Linked DNA regions of Homo sapiens: region 2 is linked to region 1. The links come from fine-mapping of genetic effects on gene expression. A gene starts in region 1. The other region holds a variant in brackets. All regions are shown on one strand. Distances are from middle to middle. Region 1 holds the start of ANKRD13D (ankyrin repeat domain 13D). Region 2 holds the start of CARNS1 (carnosine synthase 1).

What was found. PIP is the estimated chance that this variant, and not a neighbour inherited with it, causes the effect.
Region 2: its variant is fine-mapped to the expression of ANKRD13D in whole blood (TOPMed, PIP above 0.99).

Annotation. Positions count from the first base shown.
Region 1 is chr11:67,287,084-67,291,455 of GRCh38, reverse strand. ANKRD13D (ankyrin repeat domain 13D) reads right to left here and starts at 2,153. Exons shown (of 15, transcript NM_207354.3): 1 at 1,906-2,153; 2 at 1,243-1,378; 3 at 1,010-1,134. The coding sequence starts at 1,995. RefSeq lists enhancers at 1-878, 879-1,803, 3,038-3,247, 3,998-4,247 and silencers at 1,798-2,567, 2,748-2,817.
Region 2 is chr11:67,412,792-67,417,163 of GRCh38, reverse strand. CARNS1 (carnosine synthase 1) reads right to left here and starts at 1,486. Exons shown (of 10, transcript NM_001166222.2): 1 at 1,401-1,486; 2 at 962-988. The coding sequence starts at 964. RefSeq lists enhancers at 1-748, 4,121-4,372. The variant A/T (reference allele first, on the strand shown) is at 2,264.

The DNA.
Region 1 (4,372 bases):
TTGTCAGCGCCCTGCCTGCTGCTGGCTCCAGCAGGCCTGGGAGCCCCTTGTCCACAGCCAGCCCAGCCCTTCATCAGGTCTTTTTTTTTTTTTTTTTTTTTTTTGAGACTTGCTCTGTCACCCAGGCTGGAGTGTAGTGGTGCAATCTCGGCTCACTGCAACCTCTGCCTCCCTGGGCTCAGGTGATTCTTCCACCTCAGCCTCCCGAGTAGCTGGGACCACAGGTGTGTGCCACCACTCCCAGCTAATTTTTGTACTTTTTGTAGAGACGGCTTTCACCATGTTGCCCAGGCTGGTCTCCACCTCCTGGGCTCAAGTGATCCGCCCACTTTGGCCTCAGAAAGCGCTGGGATTACAGGAGTAAGCCACAACGCCTGGCCCTTCATCAAGTCTTGACGCACTGCTATGGCTCAGCTACGCCCAACCACTCTGCCCTGGAGAGGGTGGGCCAAGTGGGGCACTACAGTGGTCTTCAGACAATGAGGCTGTAAGCACCTGGAGGTGGAGGGCCAGCCTCAACCTGGCCATGAGCCTGTGCAGAGCCCTGGGGGAGCCTTTGTTTCCACTGGGTCTCAGAGTCCTACTCTGTAAAGGGGGCACAGTGGCTCCCTCCGAGCCTGCTCCTGGGGTAGGGGGTATGAGATAGTATGCTCTGCCAGCCAGGCCCCTCCGTGTGCTTCCAGAAGGGTGCGTAGTAGCAAGTATTCCAGGGTTTCAGGCCATAATCCACCGAGTCAACCTGAAGTCCCTGCTCCAGGTAATCTGCATTCTTCAGGAGGCCCAAAGCTGGCAAGGCTTCTCTTCCAAAGGGTCCAGTCTCTCCCACGTGAGCCTGGCCGTCTCTCTTTCCTACGTGACCCTGGGCTGGGGTCAAGATAGACAGACCTCCTTGCTGGTGGCAGGAGGCACACTGCACAAACTGGGTGCCTTTCCAAGGCCAGGCCTGGCACAGTAACCAGGGTGGTGCCCTGCCATGGTACCCCACCTCCATAACTGTGCCCTGCTGTACCTGGCGAAGTTTGTTGAGCAGTTCCGGAATGCCCGCCAGCCTCTGCGTGGCCCTCTGGTAGTCCCGATACTGGAGCACCAGCTGCACCATCTCGGGGTCTCCAGTGCTGACTGCCTCCTGCAGGACTGCGGGCACCAGGCTGCTGAGGGGAGCCCTCCAGATGACCCCAGGCCTGGCTGCTCACTGCCCCCCGCCTGCCAGCCTCAGGGGGAGCCCCTTGTCCTCTGCAGTACCTGCCCAGCCCTGGCGGTTCTCTTTGCCCACGTTGGCATTGTGTCGAAGGAGCACTCTCACAGACTCCAGGTTTCCCAGAGACACGGCCAGCTCCAGTGGGGTCCGCCCGCGGGGGTCCTCCTGTTCAATGTCGTGCTGGGGGAGACGGGACACTCACAAAGGGCAGGAGAGAAGAGGGCAAGGCAGGGAGGCTGCCAGGGCGAGCAGGGTTGGGAATCGCTGTGGGAAATAAGGACGGCGGACTGACCAGGGAGATGGCAGAGGGTGGCCTGCGTGTCCTGGCAGGGGAGAGGAGGGGGCAGGAGGGAAGGCAGGGGCAGAGCCGGGGTCTGGCGGCGGGGCCTGGTCAGGCAGAGCTGCAGGTTGTCAGGAGTTTGGCGGAACCTGGGGACCAGGACCAGAGTTCTTGTTCTCAGCTTGGGTCAGCAAGGATGCGGAAGCGAGTTCGGGCGAGCAGGGCAAGGCCCAGCGCAGGGGAGAGGAGGCCAGAGGCTCAGGCGCGAGGGGCCGGTGACCTGGGCTTGGGATCGTGCAGGGGAGGAAGGCCCAGGATGTGGCTGCGGAGCTGAGCGGGCGGGGGGGGGGGGGGGGCTCCAGGACGGAGGCCACAGCCTTGGGTGGGGGACCCGGGGGAAGGGCCGGGTGCCCCAGCGGGGCCTCACCTGGTGGCTGTGCAGTGCGGCCTCCAGTTCGCGATGCCGGTTCGCCCAGACGAGCCGGTGCAGCGGGAAGGTGGGGCCCGGGCCGGCCATGCTGGGCCTCAGCGCCGCATCCCGGCCCCGCCTCGGCTTCGGGCCTGGCACGGCCCCCTAGCCTCCCCTCCGAGCCGCGCCCCAGCTGCGCCCCCCGCGGCCCCCGCAGCAGTAGCGGCGGCGGCGGCGGCGGCGGCAGCGCGGGCGGCAGGGAGGGCGGGGCGGGCGGCGGAGCGGGCGGGGCTGCGCCGGGCCGGGGCGGGGCTTCGCGCGCGCCCCCGTCCCCCCGCAACCATGGCAACCGCGGCCAGGCCAGCGCGCGGCAGAGCAACCGCGAGCGCCCGAGGAGATGCCCGGCCTTGGGTCTGCGCCCCGACCTCGGTCGGGCCCGGGTCCGCTGGGGCGGCCTGGAGGGCGGTGCCCGGTTACAGCTCCGCCCGCGGCCCGCAGGAGGCGCCCCGAGCCCTGCGCAGACCCCCGGAGCCGGGTCCGGAAGAGGAAGGCGGGGCCGGAGGGGGCGGGCACTGGGCCCCTCGGTAGTGCACGCGCGTGCGCGGCGGGCCGCGGTCCTGCTGCAGCCGTGATGCCTGCGTTTCCCCCGCGGATCCCCTTGCTCGCCCCGGTCTTCCTACCCCAGGTCCCGCGGTCACCGACTCTGCTGGGGTGTGCGGGTGAAGTGGGGCGCCCCGGCTCCCCTCACCCGGCCTGGAGACGAGCAACGAGCAGACGCCACTAAGTGCTTGCCGGCTGAGCGGGAAGCACCTTCCCCTGGGACCTGGCCGGTGTCTGCAGGCCCAGCGATGCGGGGAGGCGGCCCCCGGGGCCCTGAAGTCAGGGATAGGAGTTCGGGGAGAGAGGGGCGCAGGCCCAGGCAGCGGCAGAGCCGTCCCGGCGGAGGACCGCCCGCGGCGAACGGCTGCCTTCGCCCGCCGCACGAGTCCCTTTTGCAGAGGCTGCGGTTGGCTGCCAGCGTCAGGAGAGGAAGGCGAGTTTCGAAATCAGGGCCGGCCCCTCCACCCACACCGGAACTAGGGTGCAGGCCTCCGTCAGCTCAGTTCCGGCCCTTGATTACTGGAGGCCCAGCCTGGGGTCTGGGGCCCTGGTTTTGCTAGGTGGCCAAGGCTGACCCTCTATTCTCCCTTTCCCTACGTGGAACATGATTGAGGAGGGCCAGCTAGCTTGAGCATCACTTCCTGCTGTAGGGCGTCCTCAGTTCTGAGACTCTGGGCTGGAAGGCCTGATTGCCATTTTTACCCTGCCTTCTCCCTGTAGTCACATGGCGCCTGTGCCATCTGGGGTCACTTTGCCACCCCACGCTATGGTGTCAATCTGTGAGGTCCTGGGGTTGGTAGCAGCCCGAAGGCTTCTGAATGCCCAGAGCTCACCTGCTCACCACTACTGCAGCCCTCCCTGGCCACCCCTTTTCTCAGAGGCGGTCCCTTCCCTGAGCCCTCTCCAAACTCAACCCCGACAGGACTTTCTTGGTTCCAGCCTCTCCTGATTTCTGCCATCTTGAACACAGCTCCCCACTGGCACTTAATTCCATGACAGTGCCTTCTCAACCCTCTTCCACGGCCTCCTCTCTCTCCCTGACCCCCACATCCCTGGGAGAGAGACTGTCCGTTCCCATTGTCACCCTGATGCCACCCCCAGGTCCACATTTCAGCTTACTCCAGGACATCTCTGTGCCCAGGGATCCCATGCTATCCCATCAGTATGTCCGAAGCCAACCCAACCACACCTACCCTCTTCCCCAGACTCCCGCCTCACTCAGCCCCAAGTCCAGCCTGTTTCTGCTGGACCACGTTCTTCCCGTCTGGCCTCTTTTCATCTCTTCCTCTCCCACTGCGGAGGTTTGTCTCCCTGCCTCCTGTCCTTCACCTCCCTCCCCACATCCTGTACTCAGTAACCAGGCAATCACTTTAGAGCCAGCTCTCACCACTCTCAGCCCTGTTCCGCACCTTCAAGGGCTCCCTGAGCATGGCAGGTCTGGACTCCATGTCGTTTGTATCTTCATTCTGCAGGCCCTGAGCACACACCTGGCTCCGGGATAGGTTAAGCCTGGCATTCAGTGCCTCCAGGCATGGCTCCTTCCTATAGTCCTCCGGCCAGCCTGGGCCACTCATGAGTCCCTGGCTCTTCCCTGCCTCAGAAATGTCCTCCCTCCTTCCCACACCAATGCTGGAGGCCTGGCTCAAAGGCCATTGCCCCTGACTCTTGTATTCAGCCCTGAGTACCCTGCCCAGCTGCCTGCCTCCCTTCTCTGCCTGGCATGCTGTGCTTTGGCCATGGGCCCCAGCCATGCCCAGCAAAGCCCTGTGTGGAGTGGGCAGCAACATGTATCTGTTTAGTCACCCGCGGGGCTAGGGCAGGGACCTGGGGAAAGGGAAGTTGACCAGAAGCCTCTGGGTAGAGGAGAGGCCTAGTGCTGGGGTTC
Region 2 (4,372 bases), 130 kb before region 1:
GCCAGCCAGCCCCTCCCGCCCCTGCCATGCTGGGCTCCGCCTTAGCTTGCTTCACAGCAGCAGAGTTTTCTGCTTGTTTTGTTCATGGAGGCAACCCCAGCACCTAAAGCGTGCCTGGCACACAGCCACTTCTCAGTAAGTGTTTGTTGACTGAAGAGTAGATGAATGAACGAACCCAGCCATCACTCTGAGGTGGCTTATTTCTGTCTCATGACCCGGCATGGAGTGTGCTGACACCTAAATGTGATTCCACTGTCATCCCCACGTAGGTCTTGAAGCCCTACTGTGTGCCCAGCCCTGGGCTAAACATTAGGAGGCTAGACAGTATCCCCCCTGCAGATATTTTGAGTCACGGAAATGCTTTCTTTGGATGAAACCTAACGTCCCTCCCCTCTCTGAGGCTGGCGCCCCCCCAATATGGGGCTGCTGGGAGGCTTCGTGTGAATGGAATTCTTGTTCTTTGCAGTCCCCAGGCCTGGACAGGCCTGGCAGCTGAGTCTGTCCTCCAGGGGACAGGCTCGGCCACCTTGAGCAAGTCGTGAGGTCTCTTTGGACCTTGTTGCCTGGTGCCTGCCCTCTCCCATCCCCTGGGGGCTGATGAGGCTGGGACGAAGAGAATCTCTTGGTTGTTGGGAGATGGTGTGCTGTGGCCCAGACGGCAGAGGACTGGGCCTCATGCCTGGGCTCGAATCCCAGTTTGCCAGGGCCAGAGCCTCTGTGCCGTCTCCTAGAAGGTGAGCTCCCTGAGGGGCCATGGAATGAATGAATGTCACAGGGCACTAAGAGTGCCCACCTCCCAGGATGCAGCCGCAGGGTGGGGGTGGGGGAGCTGGTCGTGGGTCTAAGCTGTCTGCAGGGGGCAACTCCCAGGCTTAGGTCCTAGGTGCTGCCTGCTGTCCTCTGGGCCCACTCTCTGCCCAGGGACTTGGGCCTTGTGGGGGAGGGACCACAGAAGACTCACCATCTCGTGGGTGGAGTGGCTGAGAGACTGATGGCAGAGACAGAGGGACAGAGAGACGAAGGAGTCAGGGCAGCCAAGTCCCTGCCTGGCCTTCCAGCCCCTAGACTTTGGGAGTGGAGAGGTGGCCGACACCTGTCCCTGCAGAGAGAGGCCAAGGCAGCCCCACCCCCACCCCGAAGGTAGGGAGGGATTTCTGCTGCCCAGACCGAGTGGCTCCTGCCCCAGTGCGGCTCACAGGTCCTTCCTGCCCTGGGGTCCGGGCTTGGCTCTGCCCCTCCAGCGCGGGGGGGAGTTGGGGGCACCGGGTCCCGGGGGTGGGGGGCGTAGCGTCGAGGGTCCCGCCGCGGGGAGCGGGCGCCCGGGGTCCTCGTCCCCGCGACTCCTGCCCCGGCCGCCCCCCTCCCTGGCTCTCCCCGGGGCGGGGCCGGAGCTGGGGTACCTGGCGGCGGCAGCGGCTCGGCGGGCGTGGCGGGCGGACTCGGACCGGGCGGGATGCAGCGGCGGCGGCGGTGGCAGTGGCACAGCGCCCGGCCCAAGCGGCGCCGCTTTATATAGAAACGCCTGGGGCATGCCCAGTGCCCAGCGGGGGCGGCGCGGGGCGGACGGACCGACAGGGACCGATAGGGACCCGCCGGGGACGCGCCCCCCCCCCCCCCCGCCCGTCAGCCACGAAAACGTCCCAGACCTGGGGGCGTGTGGCGGGACACGGACCCAGCAGGAGGAGGGCACGGAGCAGGCAGGGAGAGACGGGGGTCTTCAGAGACACAGAGGAAGTCCCGACAGAGGGCCAGGTACAGATGGACAGGGACTGTCGTCGAGGGTCACAGACGTAGGGCTGCCATGAAGAAAGAGGGAGGCCCACCATGGAGAAGAGATGGAAAGGAGGGGCGGGGAGAGCCGGAGCAGGCAGAGACTGGTACTAGGGCCCGCCCTTAGGGGTGGGGTGCCCGGGAGAGCAGCCTGGAGCACACAGCCCTGAGCCCTACCTTTGGATGGAGGCCGGAGGTCCCAGCCCTGCAGCTTTCTGTCCCAGCTGCCAGCGCTTTGCCCTATTGCACGTTCTCCCAGAGAGGCCCTCCTGGGCCAGGGTCTCCACACATCTGTGCAGCCCCCTCCTCACTTCTGGACCCAGTGGACTTGCACACAGGGGCCAGGATGTCTATAAGATCCAGCCTCTCCTGGTGCGGTGGCTGCCTATAATCCCAGCACTTTGGGAGCCTGAGGCAGGAGAATTGCTTGAACCCAGGAGTTTGTGACCAGCCTGGGCAACATAGCAAGACCCTGTCTCTATAAAAAAAAAAA[A/T]TTTAAACTAGCTGGTTGAGGTGGTGTGGGCCTGTAATCCCAGCTACTTGGGAGGCTGAGGTGGGAAGATCACATGAGCCCCGGGGGTCGAGACTGCAGTGAGTCCTGGTTGTGCCACTGCACTCCAGCCTGGGCAATACAGTGAGAGCCTATCTCTCTCGCTCGCTCCGCTTTTTTTTTTTTTTTTTTTTTTTTTGAGACAGAGTTTCAGTGTGTCGGCCCAGGCTGGAGTGCAGTGGTGTGATCTCAGCTCACTGCAACCTCTACCTCCCAGGTTCAAGTGATTCTCCTGCCTCAGCCTCCTGAGTGGCTGGGATTACAGGCACACGCCACCACGCCTGGCTAATTTTTGTGTGTTTAGTAGAGACAGGGTTTCGCCGTGTTGGCCAGGCTTGTCTTGAACTCCTGACCTCAGGTGCTCCTCCTGCTTCGGCCTCCCAATGTCCTGAGAATACAGGTGTAAGCCACTGTACCCAGCCGAGACCCTATCTCTCTCTCTTTTTTTTTTTTTTTTTTTTGACCCTATCCCTTTTTTTTTTTTTTTTTTTTTTAAGACAGAGTCTTACTCTGTCACCAGGCTGGAGTGCAGTGGCACAATCTTGGCTCACTGCAACCTCCGCCTCCCCGGGTCCAGTGATTCTCCTGCCTCAGCCTCCCAAGTAGCTGGGACTACAGGTGCGAGCCACCATGCCCAGCTACTTTTGTTTTGTTTTGTTTTGTTTTGTTTTTGAGATGGAGTTTCGCTCTTGTTGCCCAGGCTGGAGTAGCTGGGATTATAGGCATGCGCCACCATGACAGCTAATTTTGTATTTTTAGTAGAGACAGGGTTTCTCCATGTTGGTCAGGCTAGTCTCGAACTCCCGACCTCAGGTGATCTGCCCGCCTCAGCCTCCCAAAGTATTAGGATTACAGGCATGAGCTACCGCGCCCAGCCCACCCAGCTAATTTTTGTATTTTTAGTGGAGACGGGGTTTCATGATGTTGGCCAGGATGGTCGCAATCTCCTGACCTCATGATCTGGTCACCTTGGCCTCCCAAAGTGCTAGGATTACAGGTGTGAGCCACTGCACCTGGCCCCCCTATCTCTTTAAAAAAAAAAAAAAAGAAAGAAAAAAGAAGAGAAAAGAAAGGAAAAGAAATCTGCTCTGCTTATCAACACCCACCCAGGTCAACTTCACACCCGGAGTTGAAGCTATAATCTCCCCAAGACATACATACTCACACCCAAGTGTACCCACCCAACCACAGAAGCATACCCCAGGAGACCTGGGTCTCAGCCACAATTCACCCACAGAAGCACAACCAGAGATTCACCCCCTCTCCTGGAGTGTGTCCCACCAGTGGGTTTCAATCCTAGCTCTGGCTGTGGGACCTGGGCCCCTCCCCTTTGTGATCTGAAGCTCACTCTCCCCAGCCTAGAATGGGGCTGGTTTCCCTCTCCTAGGCAGGGCAGCCTATGGCTCTAACTCCTCCCTCTCACAGTCCCCAGTCAGCCCTTCTCCCTGCCTGTCTCGCAACTGGACACATATTGAGCCCTGGCTGTCCTTGAGAGCCTCCTGGCCTGGGGGAGAATACTGAGGGGCCCACACATGTCAGGGACAGAGATGACAGCTGTTGGACCCTTTCTGCAACTATATACAGGGCAGTCTGTGCAGACCCATCCCTGTCTACCACTGGAGAGGGTCGGCAGAGAGGGGAAATGGCTTCTCCAGGATGCCCAGTCCAGCCCACATTCCCCACACAACTTCCAGGCCCACGTGCAGCCCTCCCTACAGCTGGTCCAGGCTCCAGGAATGAGGAACCAGCCCCATTCTAGGCTGGGGAGAGTGAGCTTCAGATCACTAAGGGGAGGGGCCCAGGTCCCACAACCACCCCAGGAGACCCAATCGCTTGCCACCTGGGTGGCCTGAGCGCCCATGGGGTCCCACTGTGGGGCCTGGGCGTGATCCAAAGAGCATGAGCTTTGACATTTAACATTTAACAAGCTCTGCAGCCCTGGGGACTCAGTTTTCTCATCTTCAAATGGGGATACAGTGCACACTCAGCCCAGGCTTAACACTTCACATGCAAGGGAGCAATTATGAGACTGAGAGAGGTCGTGTGACTTGC